Homo sapiens: one gene and its partner. The protein of the gene in region 1 interacts with the protein of each later gene in a pairwise test. Each region holds a gene or a part of one and is shown in the gene's direction. Other genes may lie near its edges.

Evidence for each region.
Region 2: the proteins of KCNN4 (region 1) and CACNA1D come close enough for resonance energy transfer, tested with the Homo sapiens proteins (one study listed by BioGRID).

What each region holds. Positions count from the first base shown.
Region 1 is NC_000019.10:43,775,871-43,784,980, reverse strand, and holds the start of KCNN4 (intermediate conductance calcium-activated potassium channel protein 4), read left to right. Parts: upstream 1-4,007; 5' UTR 4,008-4,119; coding exon 4,120-4,278; intron 4,279-8,344; coding exon 8,345-8,440; intron 8,441-9,110. UniProt on the Homo sapiens protein: Intermediate conductance calcium-activated potassium channel that mediates the voltage-independent transmembrane transfer of potassium across the cell membrane through a constitutive interaction with calmodulin which binds the intracellular calcium allowing its opening.
Region 2 is NC_000003.12:53,804,970-53,814,072, forward strand, and holds the end of CACNA1D (voltage-dependent L-type calcium channel subunit alpha-1D), read left to right. Parts: intron 1-13; coding exon 14-177; intron 178-3,679; coding exon 3,680-3,801; intron 3,802-5,008; coding exon 5,009-5,329; intron 5,330-6,143; coding exon 6,144-6,437; 3' UTR 6,438-8,764; downstream 8,765-9,103. UniProt on the Homo sapiens protein: Voltage-sensitive calcium channels (VSCC) mediate the entry of calcium ions into excitable cells and are also involved in a variety of calcium-dependent processes, including muscle contraction, hormone or neurotransmitter release, gene expression, cell motility, cell division and cell death.

The sequences.
Region 1 (9,110 bases):
CTCCCTCAGACCTAGGAGTCCAGATCCAGCCCCTCCTCTCTCAGACCAGCAGTCTAGACCCCAGCCCCCCTCCTCCCTCAGAACCAGGAGTCCAGACCCCCTGCCCCTCCTCTCTCAGACCAGCAGTCCAGACCCCATCCCCTCCTTCCTCAGACCCAGGAGTCCAGACCCCAGCCCCTCCTCCCTCAGACCCCCTCCTCCCTCAGAACCAGGAGTCCAGACCCCCAGCTTCTTCCTCCTGGACCCTTCCTCTTAGGCATTTTGAGGTCCTCTACTATTCCCTCTCCCTCTCTTTTACACAAACCCCTCTCTCCCTCCACTCCCCATTCTAGGATTGAGACCAAGGGTGAGTCACAAGAAGCCCTGAGGCCCTGAGTCACCTCGCCCTCCCCCCTTGGCCCCTCCCTGGGCTGGAGGCAGCTGGCTGAGGAGTGAAGCAGTTTCCTAGGACTGACCCCTGCATCCCAGGACTGCAGTTTGAAGGCAGGTGCCCTTCCCACTGTAACCCCATCACTGCCACCCAGGCATGTCCATGCCCATCCTTTGCTGTTTTTCTCTTTCAGTCATGGCCTATTTGGAGACAAAATTTCTCTGTGCTCTAACTTCCGTGTCTTGATTGTGTTTTCCGGTTTCTCTGCACCTGTGGGTCTCTTTGATTTTTTTTAATACATGCCCCCACCATCCCTGGCTGAATGCCTCGAGGTCTCTCTGATTATCTCTCTCTCCCTCTGTGTCAGTCTCTGTCTCCGTTTTTCACAAGTGCCTGAACTGGGGCACAGATGCCATGGCATGGCCGCAGCTGGAGCGCTATTTAGTGGCTTCTGACCCTTGGGTGGCCACAGTCTCTGGATCACTGGCCCTCAACCCCTGAGTGGGACTGGGGTAGAACCGGAAGGAACCAGGCTGTCCGTAGATGTGCCAGTGAACAGCAGAGAGAAACTGAGGCAGAGACAAGCATAGAGAGGCCCGGAGAGAGAGAGAGAGACCCAAGAGGAGACCAGGAGGCAGGGAGAGAGTGAAACAGAGACGGAGAGAAACACCGATTCAGCAAGAGACAGACAAAAACAGAGGGCCCTAGAGACGGAGAGATGGAGACAGAGTGAGACACGATGACAGAGACACAGGCAATGATGAACACAGAGAGAGACATGACAGAGAGACAGTGACGGGGAAAGAAGGAAACAGAGGAGCAGAGAGGGACACGAAGATGGAGAAAGGGACAGAGCGATGAGAGAGACACAGAGAGGCTAAGAGAGGCAGAGACAGAGAGACAGAGTGAAGAGAGACAGAGAGAGACAAAGGTACCAGGAGAGAAGAACAGAGACAGAGATAAAGACAAACCTGGCCAGGCACGGTGGCTTACGCCTGTAATCCCAGAACTTTGGGAGGCCGAGGCGGGTGGATCACCTGAGGTCAGAAGTTCACGACCAGCCTGGCCAACATGGTGAAACCTCGTCTCTACTAAAAATACGAAAATTAGCTGGGTGTGGTGGTGCACACCTGTAATATCAGCTACTCGGGAGGTTGAGGTAGGAGAATTGCTTGAACCTGGGAGGTGGAGGTTGCAGTGAGCCGAGATCGTGCCACTGCACTCCAGCCATGGGAGACAGAGCAAGACTCTATCTCAAAAAAAAAAAAAAAAAAAAAAAAGACAAACGCGGAGGTTTCCAGATCAGGAGAGACTGAGACAGGAAGCAAGTCCCAAAGAACCAGAGAAAGAGCCGGAGAGGGAGGAGAGAGACGCAGCGAGCCGGGCGGCCAGTGGGCAGGGGTGCCCAGGCTGCAGGCTCAGGAGTGCCCGGCGGCTGCACTTTCCCCAAGTGGACGCATGTGTGGTGTCTGGGCGCGCCCGGGTGTGTCTCCAGCCCTCTCCCGCCAAGTCTCGCCGAGTGGGTAATTGTGTGTGCCGAGGGGCGGAGCCCCCGCAAGGGTTGTGTTTTTGCCACTGGGCGTGTCCATGTGTATGGTTTGGTGTCTCTGGGTGTGTTTGTGTGGGCTGCCTTGGTGTGCAGTCAGACATGTCTGTGCGTGTCTCGCTTCCCTGGGGCTGGTGGGTCCAGGGTCCCACACGACCTAGGACACAAGGAGGGGGAGGGTTGTGTCCGCAGGTTCCTTGCAGAGGGGTGTGCATGAGGCCAAGGGCAGTGTCACCAGTTCAGTGCATGATGCTGGGAGGTGATGTGCGTCACCAGGTCAGTGCATGCCTGTGTGTCTCCACAGGAGGGTTTGATCTGTGTCGGAGCGTATGGTGTACAGATCCATGAGTGGCTCGTGCTGCGACACATGGAGATGTCCTATGTTGTGTGTTGCTCTGAGAGTCACCGTGCACATTCCACACTGGCATTTGCTGTATCTCACGTCAGGGTCCATGTCCCTGTTGGGGGCCTCTTCCTTCTCAGCCCCCAGCACCCACCCTGAGTGCCAACCACCCCAAGTGTCTTGTGTTTGTGTAGCTGTGTGTTATGTTGTGTCAGAGGATACACCCCCCTCCCCCGATGCTGGTGTTGTGTGGGTGGCGGTAGACCTCAGTGTCAGTAGTATCAGTGAGTGGTGACATCTGGTGTTTTATGGGACATGTGGTCGTTTGTGGAAGGTTGGGTGTGTTGGAAAACATTGTGTTTATGTGTTTTGCGTTACTGTGTGCTGGTGTATTACTCCGCGTATGTTGTTGTGTGGCCACGCATGTTGGAATATAACGTGTTGGGTTGTGTGGAGGTATTGTATGTCATGTTTGGGTGTGGCTCATGGCTCAGAGGTGATGGTGTATGTTGCGTTTGTTTTTTTGTTTTTGCTTGTTTTAGAGATAGGATCTTGCTATGTTGCCCAGGCTGGTCTCAAACCCCTGGGCTCCAGCAATCCTCCCACCTCAACCTCCCAAACTGCTGGGATTACAGGCATGAGCCACTGCACCCAGCCGTATGTTGCATTTGGGCACTGGGGTCTATGAAGGTCCAACCCCATCCCCTTCCCCCAGGGCATCATCCTGGATGTTGTCCTGTGTGGCCAGAATATACCAGAATCATCTTGCTTCAGGCATGTGCTTCTTGGGTTTCTCCGTGTGTCGCTGTACCTTGTAGGTCTCTGCATGCATCCACTCAGCTTGTCCTCTGACCATACATTTGAATCGCACCACACATCAGAGCATGCTGAATCAGTGCGTGTTTTGAATCATCACTGCGAGCACTTGTGTTCGAGTCAACAGGCGCCACAATGTATGTGCAATTCTCTAGCTCTGGGTGATTGGGGGCTACTATAGGTATGTCCCTAAATGTTGTGTGTCTACACGTATTGGGTTTCGTTCCAAGGGTGTGTAGTGTTTAGGAAACTGGGACTGCACAGTGTTTGTGTCGGTGTGTGGTGTGTGGCATCAGGGCGTCACTACTTTAATATATATTGTGTGTTTGTGTAACACCTGGTGTATGTTGTGTTTGTGTGGCCACAGTTGTGCATCGTCCTATTTGTGGTGTTTGGGTGTGGCTCTTTGTGTCAGAGAAAGTTGTGACAACTTTGAGTGTAATATTTGTGCCTGTGTGTGGACGGTGTTTGGGTGGCTGTGTGTGCCACGGGATACTGCCTGCTTGCTAAGTGCTGGTGTGTGTCACACCATGTGTGTGGTGTCTGGGTGTGGCTGTGGGTTTCAGAGCTTGCTGGGAGTTGTGAGTCACTCTGTGTAGGTTGTGTTGTGTGCCCTGGTGTGTTAGTCTCCGTCTTGGGCTGTGGAGTGTCCTTCGGTGTCTGGGTGTGGTGAGTAGAGGTGTGTGTCACAAAGTACAGACCATTGTGTGTGACAAAGCCCATCGTGTGTCTGTGTGTGTCTTTATCCACGTGGATGGACGTCTCTTTCTTGCTCTGCCCCAAGACACACCCTAGCCCCTCCTTATTCTCAAAAGGGGGAGCTGGGGAGCCTCCCCCTACCCTGGGGCCTCCCCTGCCCCTCCCCGCCCTGCCTGGCCGTCACCACTCCCCAGAGGGCACAGGGCTCTGCTGTGCCTCAGAGCAAAAGTCCCAGAGCCAGCAGAGCAGGCTGACGACCTGCAAGCCACAGTGGCTGCCCTGTGCGTGCTGCGAGGTGGGGGACCCTGGGCAGGAAGCTGGCTGAGCCCCAAGACCCCGGGGGCCATGGGCGGGGATCTGGTGCTTGGCCTGGGGGCCTTGAGACGCCGAAAGCGCTTGCTGGAGCAGGAGAAGTCTCTGGCCGGCTGGGCACTGGTGCTGGCAGGAACTGGCATTGGACTCATGGTGCTGCATGCAGAGATGCTGTGGTTCGGGGGGTGCTCGGTGAGTGGGGCATGGTGGCTGGGAGCTGGGACTCCTAGGTCTGAGGGAGGAGGGGCTGGGGGTCAGGACTCTTGGGTCTGAGGGAGGGGGGGCTGGGGGTCAGGACTCCTGGGTCTGAGGGAGGAGGGGCTGAGGGTCAGGACTCCTGGGTCTGAGGGAGGAGGGACTGGGGACTTGGACTCCTGGGTCTGAGGGAGGAGGGACTGAGGGCCTGGACTCCTGGGTCTGAGGGAGGAGGGGCTGGGGGTCAGGACTCCTGGGTCTGAGGGAGGAGGGGCTGGGGTCTGGACTCCTGGGTCTGAGGGAGGAGGGGCTGGGGGTCAGGACTCCTGGATCTGAGGGAGGAGAGGTTGGGGGCCTAGACTCTTGGGTCTGAGGGAGGAGGGGCTTTGGCTGGGACTCCTGGGTGCTCCCAGGAGACAGTTGCTGGGGTCCTTCTCTGCAAAAGGAAGGGAATATTTGTTTCAGTGTTTCAGTCTTTGAAGATGTTGCCATTAGACGGCCAGAGGTCCAGGACCCCTGGAGGCCAGAGGGTGGCTGATCAGACACTCAAGCCCCCCAAGAGCCAATAAGGGGAGAGGTAGCCCCAGGTTTGGTGAAGGGAGAGTGGAGGAAAGACAAAGTTCTTCCAGTAGGCGGCAGCTCTTTGGTCCTTGTCTAACCTCTAATGTTTACCCAGTGCCTTAGATGCAAAGGACAGAAAAAACTGCCTTGGGGGTGGGGATGGGAAATGGGAAACAAACCTCTCCCCCGACCTGCCTCCCCCCACCAACCCCAACCCAGTCTCCACTGTTAACAAGCTCAATTTCTCCCCAAATCTGCATGCTGATTAGTCAGGGAAATAGTGGAGAGGTAGGCTTACAGTGGCCTGGACTCCTAGGTACCAGGAGAGGAGGGGGCTGGGTCCTGGATTCCTGAGTCTTAAGGAGAAGGGGGTTTTGATTGCTTTTGGGGAAGAGGGGCTGACTCCGAAGATGAGTGGTGAGTAGGGAAGAAAGGGGAAAGTGGGGTCAGGGCAGGTCTCAGCAGGCTCCCGTCACATTCCAGCCCTGGTCAGGCCAGTGATGGGGCAGATCAAGGACAAGGGTTGGAATAAGTGGCTTGAGGGGAGAACAGACTTGCTCAACAGGAAAGGAGGGGCTGGAGACCTCTCTGGCAGAAGGGTTGTGGAACTGGGCTGGTAGGGCCAGATGCGGACACTGATATGAAGATTGGGTAGATTCCTGAGGGTCTGATGTTCCGACTTGGATCTGGAGGGGGTGGTGGGCAGCTCTGAAGTGACCAGGAGCCACATGGAGGGTCAGGCATGCAGCTTCCTCTGGCAGGCGGCGGGCACTGAGGGGGTGGGGCCGCCGAAGTCCATGCCAACAGGAAGCATGGCCGGGGCCTGCCCGCCGCTCCCACGCCGAAGCACCGCACCCAGAAGCCGAGGTGGGAACACAGTGACCCTGGCAGATGGGAAGAGACGGGGTCCATCCTACCCCACTTCACCCCTCTGCTTTCTCACCCCTCATTTCTTCCTTCCCTCCACCATGGCCAGGCCACTGCCTCTATCAGTGGGACCTTGGGGAAGCTGTTACAACCCTCTGAACCTCAGTTTCCCCATCTGTAAATTGGGGTGAGGGTTAAAATACATGACCCTAAGGGTCACCCTCCACCCTTTTTATTTTATGTAGAGATGGGACCTTGCTTTGTTGCCTAGGCTGGTCTTGAACTCCTGGACTCAGGCAATCCTCCTGCCTCAAAGTGCTGGGATTACAGGCCTGAGCCACAGCTCCTCAGTCCCCTTTTGAGGACTCTCTTAATAACATCCACCGCCCCTCACCACCTCCATCTCAATCTAATGAGCTCATTTCTGCAAAGGACCCAGACACCTGCTCCCCAGGGGGAGGGGCTGGCAGAGAGGCAGGTGCAAAACCCTAGGGAGTCCAAGGGAACTGGATAGAGATATCCAAAAGCACCAGGTGGGGTGGAGGAGGAGGGATGGGGAGAGGTACAGAGAGAGACAGAGACACAGAGATACATGGAGAGAAAAAGAGAGATGGAGACAAAAATGCAGAAAGATAGAGAAGTACAGCTAAAGAGAAAGACAAATAGGGCTATCAAGCTACTGAGAAATCCACCAGTGAGAGATACACACACAGCGTTAGAAAAGACAATAGAGGGCCGGGCGCGGTGGCTCACGCCTGTAATCCCAGCACTTTGGGAGGCCGAGGTGGGCGGATCACAAGGTCAGGACATCGAGACCATCCTGGCTAACACAGTGAAACCCCATCTCTACTAAAAACACAAAAAATTAGCCAGGCATGGCGGCGTGTGCCTGTAGTCCCAGCTACTCAGGAGGCTGAGGCAGGAGAATGGTGTGAACCCAGGAGGCGGAGCTTGCAATGAGCCAAGATCGTGCCACTGCACTCCAGCCTGGGTGACAGAGCAAGACTCCGTCTCAAAAAAAAAAAGAGACAATAGAAACAAAGACCCTCAAAACACATAGAAAGACAGCAACAACCATCCCTAGAGACAGGGAAATTCAGAGAACAGAGTACAGGCCCAAGTGCAGACAGGTCCGGGATTTGGGGGAAGAGGAAATGGAAAAGTAGAGAGGACCACCAGAGAAGCAAATTGCAGTGTGAGGAGGGAGCTTGTTGTCTAGTGGTGTGGGCAGTTAAGACAGACTGAAGAAAGAGGCAGGGAACCAGGGAGCCATAGAAGGTGGGGGAGGGCTGGTGACAACAGCACTATTGTTCTGATAGGGGGTTGGGGAGCAGGCCCCTGGGGCAGGAAACTGGCCCTCTTCCCCTGCTCAGAGGCGGGATGCTGGCCCAGCCAGGGGAGCTGGCAGCCCTCTTAGGAGAAACAGGTGCAATGCTTTGTAAGGACGCCCAGGTGGTCCCCTCCCCCTGCAAATACCCGCCAGGCAGGGACCAACCCCTCTTAGGAAATCCAACAGTCCCAGTCCCCTCTAAATCCCTCTCTCCAGAATTCTAGATTCCTCCAAGGTTGTGCCACACAAAGAGAGGAAAAAAAAAAAAAGGAACAATTTCTCCGTGGTTTCTGGAGGCCCTGTGCTTCCGGCCAGATCTGCCCTGGGCTTAGAGCCAGAAGAGAGGGGTGGCAGTGGGGAGCTGCAGGGGGGCAGAACCGAGGGGGCTGTCTCAGAGCTGAGGCTGGGTCTCAGGGACTCAGCCCTCCGGATGAGAGCAGAGAAGGGTGTGACTCAGTCTTTGAGGATTGAATGGTAGTTTCTACATTCTTCCAGATCTGGGGTTGGGGTTGATTGAAGTTGGTTTCTAGGACAACACCAGGTGGGTAGGAAGGGAAGGGGAGGGGGCACTCTCTAGAGGCTAGATGTCTTTTTCTAGACACCACACACACACACCCACACACACACACACACACACACACACCTGAAGAACTATTTTTGATGTGAAATGGGACAGGAATAAGAAGGAATGTGAGTTTCAAGGTCCCCCTTCATGGGTATGGGTCTTGGGAGAAGAGCTGAGGAAGAGGGTAGACACCAGCATCTGGACAGGGTTGTCCTGTTGGGGAGAAAGAGAGCATTCCTGGGGACCAGATGATGGTGTTTTTTTGTTTGTTTGTTTGCTTGCTTGCTTGTTTCGAGACGGAGACTCGCTCTGTTGCCCAGGCTGGAGTGCAGTGGCGCGATCTCTCAGCTCACTGCAACTTCCACCTCCTGGGTTCAAGATTCTGGTTCCTCAGCCTCCCAAGTAGCTGGGATTACACACCCAGCTAATTTTTTGTTTTTTTAGTAGAGACTGGGTTTCACCATGTTGGCCAGGGGGTCTCAAACTCCCGACCTTCGGTGATCCACCTGCCTCAGCCTCCCAGAGTGTTGGGATTACAGGTGTGAGCCACCGCACTGGGCCCAGATGATGGTTTTGAGACTTCTCCAGAACCGACACATCAAGAGGGACTGATTTGCAGGGGAAGGAGGCTAGGAAAATTGGGAATCAAAAAAAAAAAATGGTGGTTTTGAAGGAAAGGTGGAGGGCCAGGCGGAGGGAGACCTGGGATCTCACACCGCTTTTTCCGTCCCCCCTGACAGTGGGCGCTCTACCTGTTCCTGGTTAAATGCACGATCAGCATTTCCACCTTCTTACTCCTCTGCCTCATCGTGGCCTTTCATGCCAAAGAGGTCCAGGTAGGGCAGGCCCCGCCCCTAAGCCTTGCTCCCTCCAACCCCCTCAGCGCCCTGTCAGCTCACACTTTCCACCCTCCTCCTCCTCCTGATCTGAGTAATGAAGTTCTTCTGCCCTAGGTGCTGCGTCCACACCCTCACCTACCCAGATGGGATGAACCATGAGCAGACAGGCAGAGCCTCCCCCACCAGCTCCGCCTTCCCCTGTAGTCCCCAGCCCCCCCTTGCACACTCACGGATGCTGAGAGTGCCCTTGCAGCCCTGCTTCCGCCCCCAGGCCTCTGTCCACTCTGCTCCCAGGCACTCAGCTTCCCAGATCTCTGTGCTCCGACATGGCATCCCCAATCCAGTCCTCAAGCAACCTAAGGTCCTAGGGCTGCCCACTCCTTTTTTTTTTTTTTTTTTTTTTTTTTTTTGAGACAAGGTCTTGCTCTGTTGCCCAGGCTAGAGTGGAGTGGCACGATCTCTGCTCACTGCAACCTCCACCTCCTGGGTTCAAACAATTCTCATGCCTCAGCCTCCCAAGTAGCTGTGACTACAGGCAGATGCCACCACGCCCAGCTAATTTTTTTGTATTTTAGTAGAAACGGGGTTTCACTATGTTGTCCAGGCTGGTCTCCAACTACTGAGCTCAAGCAGTCTGCCCACCTTGTCCTCCCAAAGTGCTAGGATT
Region 2 (9,103 bases), on another chromosome or scaffold:
CTCTGACCTCCAGGCAAAACTATGGCTACTACAGCAGATACCCAGGCAGAAACATCGACTCTGAGAGGCCCCGAGGCTACCATCATCCCCAAGGATTCTTGGAGGACGATGACTCGCCCGTTTGCTATGATTCACGGAGATCTCCAAGGAGACGCCTACTACCTCCCACCCCAGCATGTGAGGCCAGATTTTTTGTTTTGGGTGGAACCTCCCGGGGAACAGTGTACCTCTCCCCCAACCCCCGCTCTGGGGGCCGGTGATGGATGTGTGCTGCCAGGTCAGGATCCTTAGTCCTCAAGACCAGCCCCCAGCCAGAGAGTGTGTCTGCTTTCCTTCCTTTCTCATCCATATCTCACGTGATAGAGCTCTAGCCTCTTCAGTGCTATGCTTGACTCTCTTTGAGAAGAGAGAGGCTGTGGGGCCCTAAGATTGCACGCACACATCTGGTAAGGGGTGTTTTGCATACATAGCATTGTCTTTGAACCTGGGACCATCCTGAGAGGGAGGCAAACCACACACATGCTTTTGCTGTTGTCAGCCCTGCTGCACTCTGTGATGGGGTGACTGAGCCCCCAAAGGGGAAGAGTGGGCTCAAGTGCAGAGCTGGCTGTGCCGCAGGCCTGTCTTGCAAAACCCCATGCCTCTGAGGGCCACCTGGGCATTCTGGTGTCCATCTGTCCTCAGGCCCCTCCAAGCCTTATCCTCCTCCCTCATCTCTGCTCCTCCTCCCTCCCTCATCTTCCCTCCTCCTCCTCCATCTTCCCTCCTCCTCCCTCATCTTCCCTCCTCCTCCCTCATCTTCCCTCTTCCTCCCTCATCTTCCCTCCTCCTCCTCTATCTTCCCTCCTCCTCCTCCATCTTCCCTCCTCCTCCATCTTTCCTCCTCCTCCCTCATCTTCCCTCCTCCTCCTCCTCCCGCATCTTCTCCTCCTCCCTCATCTTCTCCTGCTCCCTCATCTTCCCTCCTCCTCCTCCCTCATCTTCCCTCCTCCTCCCTCCCTCATCTTCCCTCCTCCTCCGTTCCTCCCTCATCTTCCCTCCTCCTCCCTCATGTTCCCTCCTCCTCCTCCCTCATGTTCCCTCCTCCTCCTCCCTCATTTTCTCTCATCTTCCCTCATCTTCCTCCTCCTTCGTCTTCTAGCATCTTCCTTTATCTTCCTCCTCCCTCATCTACCCTCCTCCTCCTTCTTTTCCCTCCCCCTCTCCTCCCTCCTCCTCCCTCCTCCCTCCTCCCTCATCTTCCCTCCTCCCCCTTCCTCTCCCTTGCCTTCCCTCCTCCTCCCTCACTTTCTCTGCTTCTCCCTCATCTTCCTGTCAAGTCTGTCAGTGCCCTCTGCTCACGGGGCAGGTTCTGGACTTGTTGGTCCCCTTCACTCTGGGGCCAGGAAACCCATCCCACCTAGAGGGGCTGGGGCTGGGGCTGGCTGCTTCCACCTGCTTTCCCTCTGCAGCGGTGGGTGGCAGGAGCTGGCGGATCTGGGTCATCCTGAGCAAGGAACTCCAGCTGGGGGAAGAGGTGCAGCCCTGGCCCCTTCCAGCCCTTGGCTGAACAGTTTCATTTTGGACATGTGGGCATTTTGCTGATGGTTAAGGACTATCCATTTCTGGAATTTCTGAGGAATGAAGCATATTTTTGAACAGGACTCTAATCAGTAACCAAAAATAGCCGTGACACATCGGCTTCTGAGTCTGCCAACTGCATATACTATAAAGAGCACCACTGGGAGGTGCCCAGGGCCCTCTGCCTCACTCCAACTGTCACAGCCCCACTGGGGAGTGTGACCAGACCCATTTCCATGGTTAATATTTAATTCCTCAGCCCTGAACACATGCAGCTAAATGAAGTCACTCCTTTCCCATAAATACTAGATGAAGCAGATGCAGGTGAGGCCGGGTGATGGCCCTCGCCCTTGTGAGTTCCACTGCCTTCCTCGGGCCTCGGCCTTTGTCTACTGCCTACTTGGCCAAGCAAGCAAGCACATGAATCCCACCAGCCACAGTGCCAGAGAGGAGCTGAGTGGGCAGGAGTGGCTGTGCTCTTGATTCATAAGGTGGTTTTGCTTTGCTGCCCCGCAGCTCAGACCTTGGACAGGAAGAACATTTCCCTCCTCCACCTGTGTTCTCAGCTGCAGGGGGATTCCCTCCTCCTCCAGAGAGTGTTGTGCAGAGCACATGAGATGGTGGGGATCCCTGGAGCATTTTAGAAATGGAAAAGCACCACATACAGGAGAGGGACCGCTGCTCTCCTTTCCCAGCCCCCAGCCCGGCCATTCGATCTGGAAACCTATGCTCCACAGCACAGTTGGCCCCTGGGTGGTGCGTGGAGGGAAGGCTTTCTGATGAGGCAGCCGTGTGTGTCCCATGTAGGCAACTGAACCAGGAGGCCCCACAGTGCGCACTGGGCACGAGAGACCAGGACTGGCTGTCTCGTTCCTCTCTGCTGGGCAGTGCCTAGCCAAGGACTCAGCCCGGTCTCTTGTGTGCAGCCCCAGTGTGCCTGGGAGTCCTCCCCTGGCTAGGCCCTGGGCTTTCCAATAGCGGAATGAGGGGCATGTGGAGTTTTGCCAGGGCTGAGAAAGGAGGCCCTGTGATCCGAGAAAAGCAGCGGTCAAGATAGGAGCCATAGAAATGCCTTGTAAACGATAGGTGTGCTCTCGACAGAGGCCCCTGCAAGGGGTAGGAGGTTTCTGGGAGGAGGCTGCTGGCTGTGTCTTAGGGCCCCAGAATTCAGACTGATCTCCCGGGCCTGGTGCCCTGTGAAGCTGGGAGCTGTGGATTGTCTTGTTAACCTCTGTGTGAGCCTCTGTTGGAAGAGCTGTTAGCAGGACAAGCATTTTCTTAAAATTAGAGGTGTCCTTTGTTTGTATTCAGTGCTAGAGAAGCTGAATCTTTCCCAACAAAAATAATTTGCTTATTACCTGGTCAAGCTGATCAGTGCAGGTAAAGTCCCTCCCTTTAAAACAGGTGTAAACACAGGAGCCCCAGCAAGATATGTCAGCTGCTGGGGACACTTAGGGTATCTGGAAGGTGACAGTGGGAAGTGTCGTGGGGTTCTGGCAGGACTTGTGTTCTTGCACTGAAGTGCTGTGCGCTCCCCACAGTATGCAGCGCCAGGGCTTCTGACTCGGATCAGTTGCCCTATGGGCTGCCTTCACTCCTCCTCCTGAGAACAGGCGAACGTTTAAAAGTAGTAAGTTCTCTTTGGGAGGCTGAGGCGGGTGGATCACGAGGTCAGGAGATCGAGACCATCCTGGCTAACACGGTGAAACCCTGTCTCTACTGAAAATACAAAATAGTAGCCGGGCGTGGTGGCGGGCGCCTGTAGTCCCAGCTACTCGGGAGGCTGAGGCAGGAGAATGGCGTGAACCCGGGAGGTGGAGCTTGCAGTGAGCTGAGATTGCGCCACTGCACTCCAGCCTGGGCGACAGAGCCAGACTCCATCTCAAAAAAAAAAAAAAAGTAGTAAGTTTGTACTTTAAAAAACATCCCTCACTGGGGCTTCTGCCTTCATCCTCTCCTACTAAAGTTTGGAGACCTCACTACCTAATCTTTCTCTTGGACAAACCGCATGCTTCTTCCTGGGCTCGTTGCTGAGCATCCGGGGCCACCCTGACTCTGAAAGACGGTGTCCCGGCAGAGAACTTGCTTCACAGCTGTGTGATGCCCTTTGCTTTCCCAGCCCACCGGAGATCCTCCTTCAACTTTGAGTGCCTGCGCCGGCAGAGCAGCCAGGAAGAGGTCCCGTCGTCTCCCATCTTCCCCCATCGCACGGCCCTGCCTCTGCATCTAATGCAGCAACAGGTGAGCGGCCCACCTGGCCTTGCCCCCACACCTAGGGGCACCCCACATAGGACCCCCATCAGGTCACTCCCTTCTCCTTGGCCTTAAGCACCAGGAGGGAAGGAGAGAATCTTCACCTACAGTCTAGTTAATCTTTGTAACAATCCTGTCAAATAGCTATGGCCATGAGTCCCATGCTGCCCAAGCTCACACAAGTGACTGCTGGCATTTGAATCCAGGGAGCCAGCTGCCAAAGCTGGCCTCACTGCCCAGGTGCCTCCCTGCGATCCCCACCACCTCTTCCTGGCATTGAATACAGAGCCTGATGTGATCTGAGCTCAGGGAGTGGGGGCCACTTGGCTGATTCTGAACAAGCGGTGCAGCCCTTCATTTTCTCTAAGAAGTGGTTCCTTCATTAAGTTTATGGGTCCCTCCATGGGCAGGGCCCTGTGGGTACTATGCAGGGTTAACCTCCCCTGCCTACAAAGGGAGCAGTCTGGGGAGAACAGTTTGCCCACGTTGAGGGCGGCTGCACAGGCAAGAGGGTGGGGCCGGAGCCCACTCACTAGGGCTTTCCCTCAAGGATAACAATATGGCGCTTTTTCTTTCTGAAAATATCACATCAGAGATGCCATTCATTCGTGCACGACAGGGTGGTGGGCATGGACCTGTGCTGTTTACAGACAGCGTTCCCCGTCCCTCTCTGCAGAGTGTGAACCCCAAGGTGCATCTGCCGTGGTGGGATTGTAAGACCGGGGCTTGTACCCAGTGCTTTAGCACATGCCAAATGCCGGCTCTAGGATGCATTACTCCAGAGCAAAGAGAACCAGCTGTTTTCCTATAAGTGCTGGGAAGTGGTAGTTTCCCCTGAATGTACTTCGGTATTTAAACCCAGCATGAACTGGGTGGTGTGTTCACACCCACAGCTTGTTGGGCTTCCCTGATTCTTCATTCTGAAGCAATTTCATGAATTAGCAACTGATACCTCCTTGGGAAAAGCCAAAGGAAATGCATTATGGATTCGGGGTAAAAGAAAGCACAGTCTGCTAGAAAACAAAGTCATCACCGCCCATTCATTCAGCGTACTTCAGTGTGCCCATGTCCTTTCCAAGTCCTTGCCTGGACTGCCCCTGGCGAGCGCAGCGCCGGTGCTTGGTCTGTGCGCAGAAGGTTTGAGGCCCGGACCTCTGAGAACCTCTGGTCTCCCAACAGTCCCCTCTTTCCTCAGATCATGGCAGTTGCCGGCCTAGATTCAAGTAAAGCCCAGAAGTACTCACCGAGTCACTCGACCCGGTCGTGGGCCACCCCTCCAGCAACCCCTCCCTACCGGGACTGGACACCGTGCTACACCCCCCTGATCCAAGTGGAGCAGTCAGAGGCCCTGGACCAGGTGAACGGCAGCCTGCCGTCCCTGCACCGCAGCTCCTGGTACACAGACGAGCCCGACATCTCCTACCGGACTTTCACACCAGCCAGCCTGACTGTCCCCAGCAGCTTCCGGAACAAAAACAGCGACAAGCAGAGGAGTGCGGACAGCTTGGTGGAGGCAGTGAGTACGGTTCTTGGCCGTGGTGGGCAGGAAGCACCAGGAGCAGCAGAGGTGCAACTGTAACAGCAGGAAGGGCAGTGGTGGGAGGGCGGCCAGGCTGTGAGCTAGGCTGCCTCAATCAGACACTTCTGAGCAGCAGGAATGTACCTGAAGCATGAGTAAAAACTGGTCACCACCACTGGCTGCAGTGGCTTACGTCTGTAATCTCAGCACTTTGGGAGGCCGAGGCGGGTGGATCACCTGAGGTCAGCGGCTCAAAGACCAGCCTTGCCAACATGGTGAAACCCCGTCTCTACTAAAAATACAAAAATTAGCCGGGCGTGGTGGTGTATGCCTGTAATCCCAGCTACTCAGGAGGCTGCAGCAGGAGAACTGCTTGAACCCGGGAGGTGGAGGCTGCAGTGAGCCGAGATCACACCACTGCACTCCAGCCTGGGCCACAGAGCGAGACTCTTGTCTCAAAAAAAAAAAAAAAAAAAAAAAAAAAACAAAAACTGGTCACCACCGTCAATTCTCATAAATGAGCTGTGCTGGCATTATGGGTGCTGTTCCGGCATATGTTTCTAGTTTATACTAAATGTCTTTCCCCAGTGGGTTTCACTCTTGTTGGGCCATGTGTAGTTTTTTAGCTCCAGGACATTTTCAAAGCCATTTACACTAGTTATTATGTATGAGGTCTAGAAAACATGATTGAGCTGCATCCCCAAAGCACACGGTGCAGTTAAGTTAGCACTGGAGTTGATTTTTCTGTCGTCCCCCTGCCCTGCAAAGCCTTATAACACCCCCATGCCATCCATCCCTCTTTTCTGTACAGGTCCTGATATCCGAAGGCTTGGGACGCTATGCAAGGGACCCAAAATTTGTGTCAGCAACAAAACACGAAATCGCTGATGCCTGTGACCTCACCATCGACGAGATGGAGAGTGCAGCCAGCACCCTGCTTAATGGGAACGTGCGTCCCCGAGCCAACGGGGATGTGGGCCCCCTCTCACACCGGCAGGACTATGAGCTACAGGACTTTGGTCCTGGCTACAGCGACGAAGAGCCAGACCCTGGGAGGGATGAGGAGGACCTGGCGGATGAAATGATATGCATCACCACCTTGTAGCCCCCAGCGAGGGGCAGACTGGCTCTGGCCTCAGGTGGGGCGCAGGAGAGCCAGGGGAAAAGTGCCTCATAGTTAGGAAAGTTTAGGCACTAGTTGGGAGTAATATTCAATTAATTAGACTTTTGTATAAGAGATGTCATGCCTCAAGAAAGCCATAAACCTGGTAGGAACAGGTCCCAAGCGGTTGAGCCTGGCAGAGTACCATGCGCTCGGCCCCAGCTGCAGGAAACAGCAGGCCCCGCCCTCTCACAGAGGATGGGTGAGGAGGCCAGACCTGCCCTGCCCCATTGTCCAGATGGGCACTGCTGTGGAGTCTGCTTCTCCCATGTACCAGGGCACCAGGCCCACCCAACTGAAGGCATGGCGGCGGGGTGCAGGGGAAAGTTAAAGGTGATGACGATCATCACACCTGTGTCGTTACCTCAGCCATCGGTCTAGCATATCAGTCACTGGGCCCAACATATCCATTTTTAAACCCTTTCCCCCAAATACACTGCGTCCTGGTTCCTGTTTAGCTGTTCTGAAATACGGTGTGTAAGTAAGTCAGAACCCAGCTACCAGTGATTATTGCGAGGGCAATGGGACCTCATAAATAAGGTTTTCTGTGATGTGACGCCAGTTTACATAAGAGAATATCACTCCGATGGTCGGTTTCTGACTGTCACGCTAAGGGCAACTGTAAACTGGAATAATAATGCACTCGCAACCAGGTAAACTTAGATACACTAGTTTGTTTAAAATTATAGATTTACTGTACATGACTTGTAATATACTATAATTTGTATTTGTAAAGAGATGGTCTATATTTTGTAATTACTGTATTGTATTTGAACTGCAGCAATATCCATGGGTCCTAATAATTGTAGTTCCCCACTAAAATCTAGAAATTATTAGTATTTTTACTCGGGCTATCCAGAAGTAGAAGAAATAGAGCCAATTCTCATTTATTCAGCGAAAATCCTCTGGGGTTAAAATTTTAAGTTTGAAAGAACTTGACACTACAGAAATTTTTCTAAAATATTTTGAGTCACTATAAACCTATCATCTTTCCACAAGATATACCAGATGACTATTTGCAGTCTTTTCTTTGGGCAAGAGTTCCATGATTTTGATACTGTACCTTTGGATCCACCATGGGTTGCAACTGTCTTTGGTTTTGTTTGTTTGACTTGAACCACCCTCTGGTAAGTAAGTAAGTGAATTACAGAGCAGGTCCAGCTGGCTGCTCTGCCCCTTGGGTATCCATAGTTACGGTTTTCTCTGTGGCCCACCCAGGGTGTTTTTTGCATCGCTGGTGCAGAAATGCATAGGTGGATGAGATATAGCTGCTCTTGTCCTCTGGGGACTGGTGGTGCTGCTTAAGAAATAAGGGGTGCTGGGGACAGAGGAGCAACGTGGTGATCTATAGGATTGGAGTGTCGGGGTCTGTACAAATCGTATTGTTGCCTTTTACAAAACTGCTGTACTGTATGTTCTCTTTGAGGGCTTTTATATGCAATTGAATGAGGGCTGAAGTTTTCATTAGAATGCACTCACACTCTGACTGTACGTCCTGATGAAAACCCACTTTTGGATAATTAGAACCGTCAAGGCTTCATTTTCTGTCAACAGAATTAGGCCGACTGTCAGGTTACCTTGGCAGGGATTCCCTGCAATCAAAAAGATAGATGATAGGTAGCAATTTTGGTCCAAAATTTTTAATAGTATACAGACAACCTGTTAATTTTTTTTTTTTTTTTTTTTTTTGTAAATAACAAACACCACTTTGTTATGAAGACCTTACAAACCTCTTCTTAAGACATTCTTACTCTGATCCAGGCAAAAACACTTCAAGGTTTGTAAATGACTCTTTCCTGACATAAATCCTTTTTTATTAAAATGCAAAATGTTCTTCAGAATAAAACTGTGTAATAATTTTTATACTTGGGAGTGCTCCTTGCACAGAGCTGTCATTTGCCAGTGAGAGCCTCCGACAGGGCAGGTACTGTGCCAGGGCAGCTCTGAAATTATGGATATTCTTATCCTCCTGGTTCCTTCGGTGCCAATGGTAACCTAATACCAGCCGCAGGGAGCGCCATTTCTCCTAAAGGGCTACACCACTGTCAACATTATCCTGGACTCTGTGTCTCTCTCTGTTGGGTCTTGTGGCATCACATCAGGCCAAAATTGCCAGACCAGGACCCTAAGTGTCTGATAGAGGCGATGATCTTTTCCAAAGTCAGTACTTACAAACTGGCATTCTTACAGGCTGCACCATTTCCTAGTATGTCTGCTTTAAGCCTGGTTCAACCTCTCATCGAATATTAAATTTTTCTTTGTAAGAAAAATTTGAAGTTGTAGAGCATGGTTTTTTGTTTTCCCTTGTCTTAGGAAAGTTTTAAGATGAAATGTTTTTCCTTTTTGGTCCCCTCCCCATCTGAAAAACACACATTTTTGTGTCCACAGGAATAACACATTTAGTTTCTTTAGTCTTATGTTTTTCATAATCTCACAAAATGTAAATGGCAGCTATGATTTCACCGTCAACTGGCAGCGAGAACCTCACTAAGAACCATCTCTGCTCAGCCTATGGACTCCGACATCCACCCAGACAGCTGGATCTCGCTTCACCATGTGGCACTTTCCAGCTCTATCCTACGAAGTTTCAGAATTGGGCGAAGGCCAGG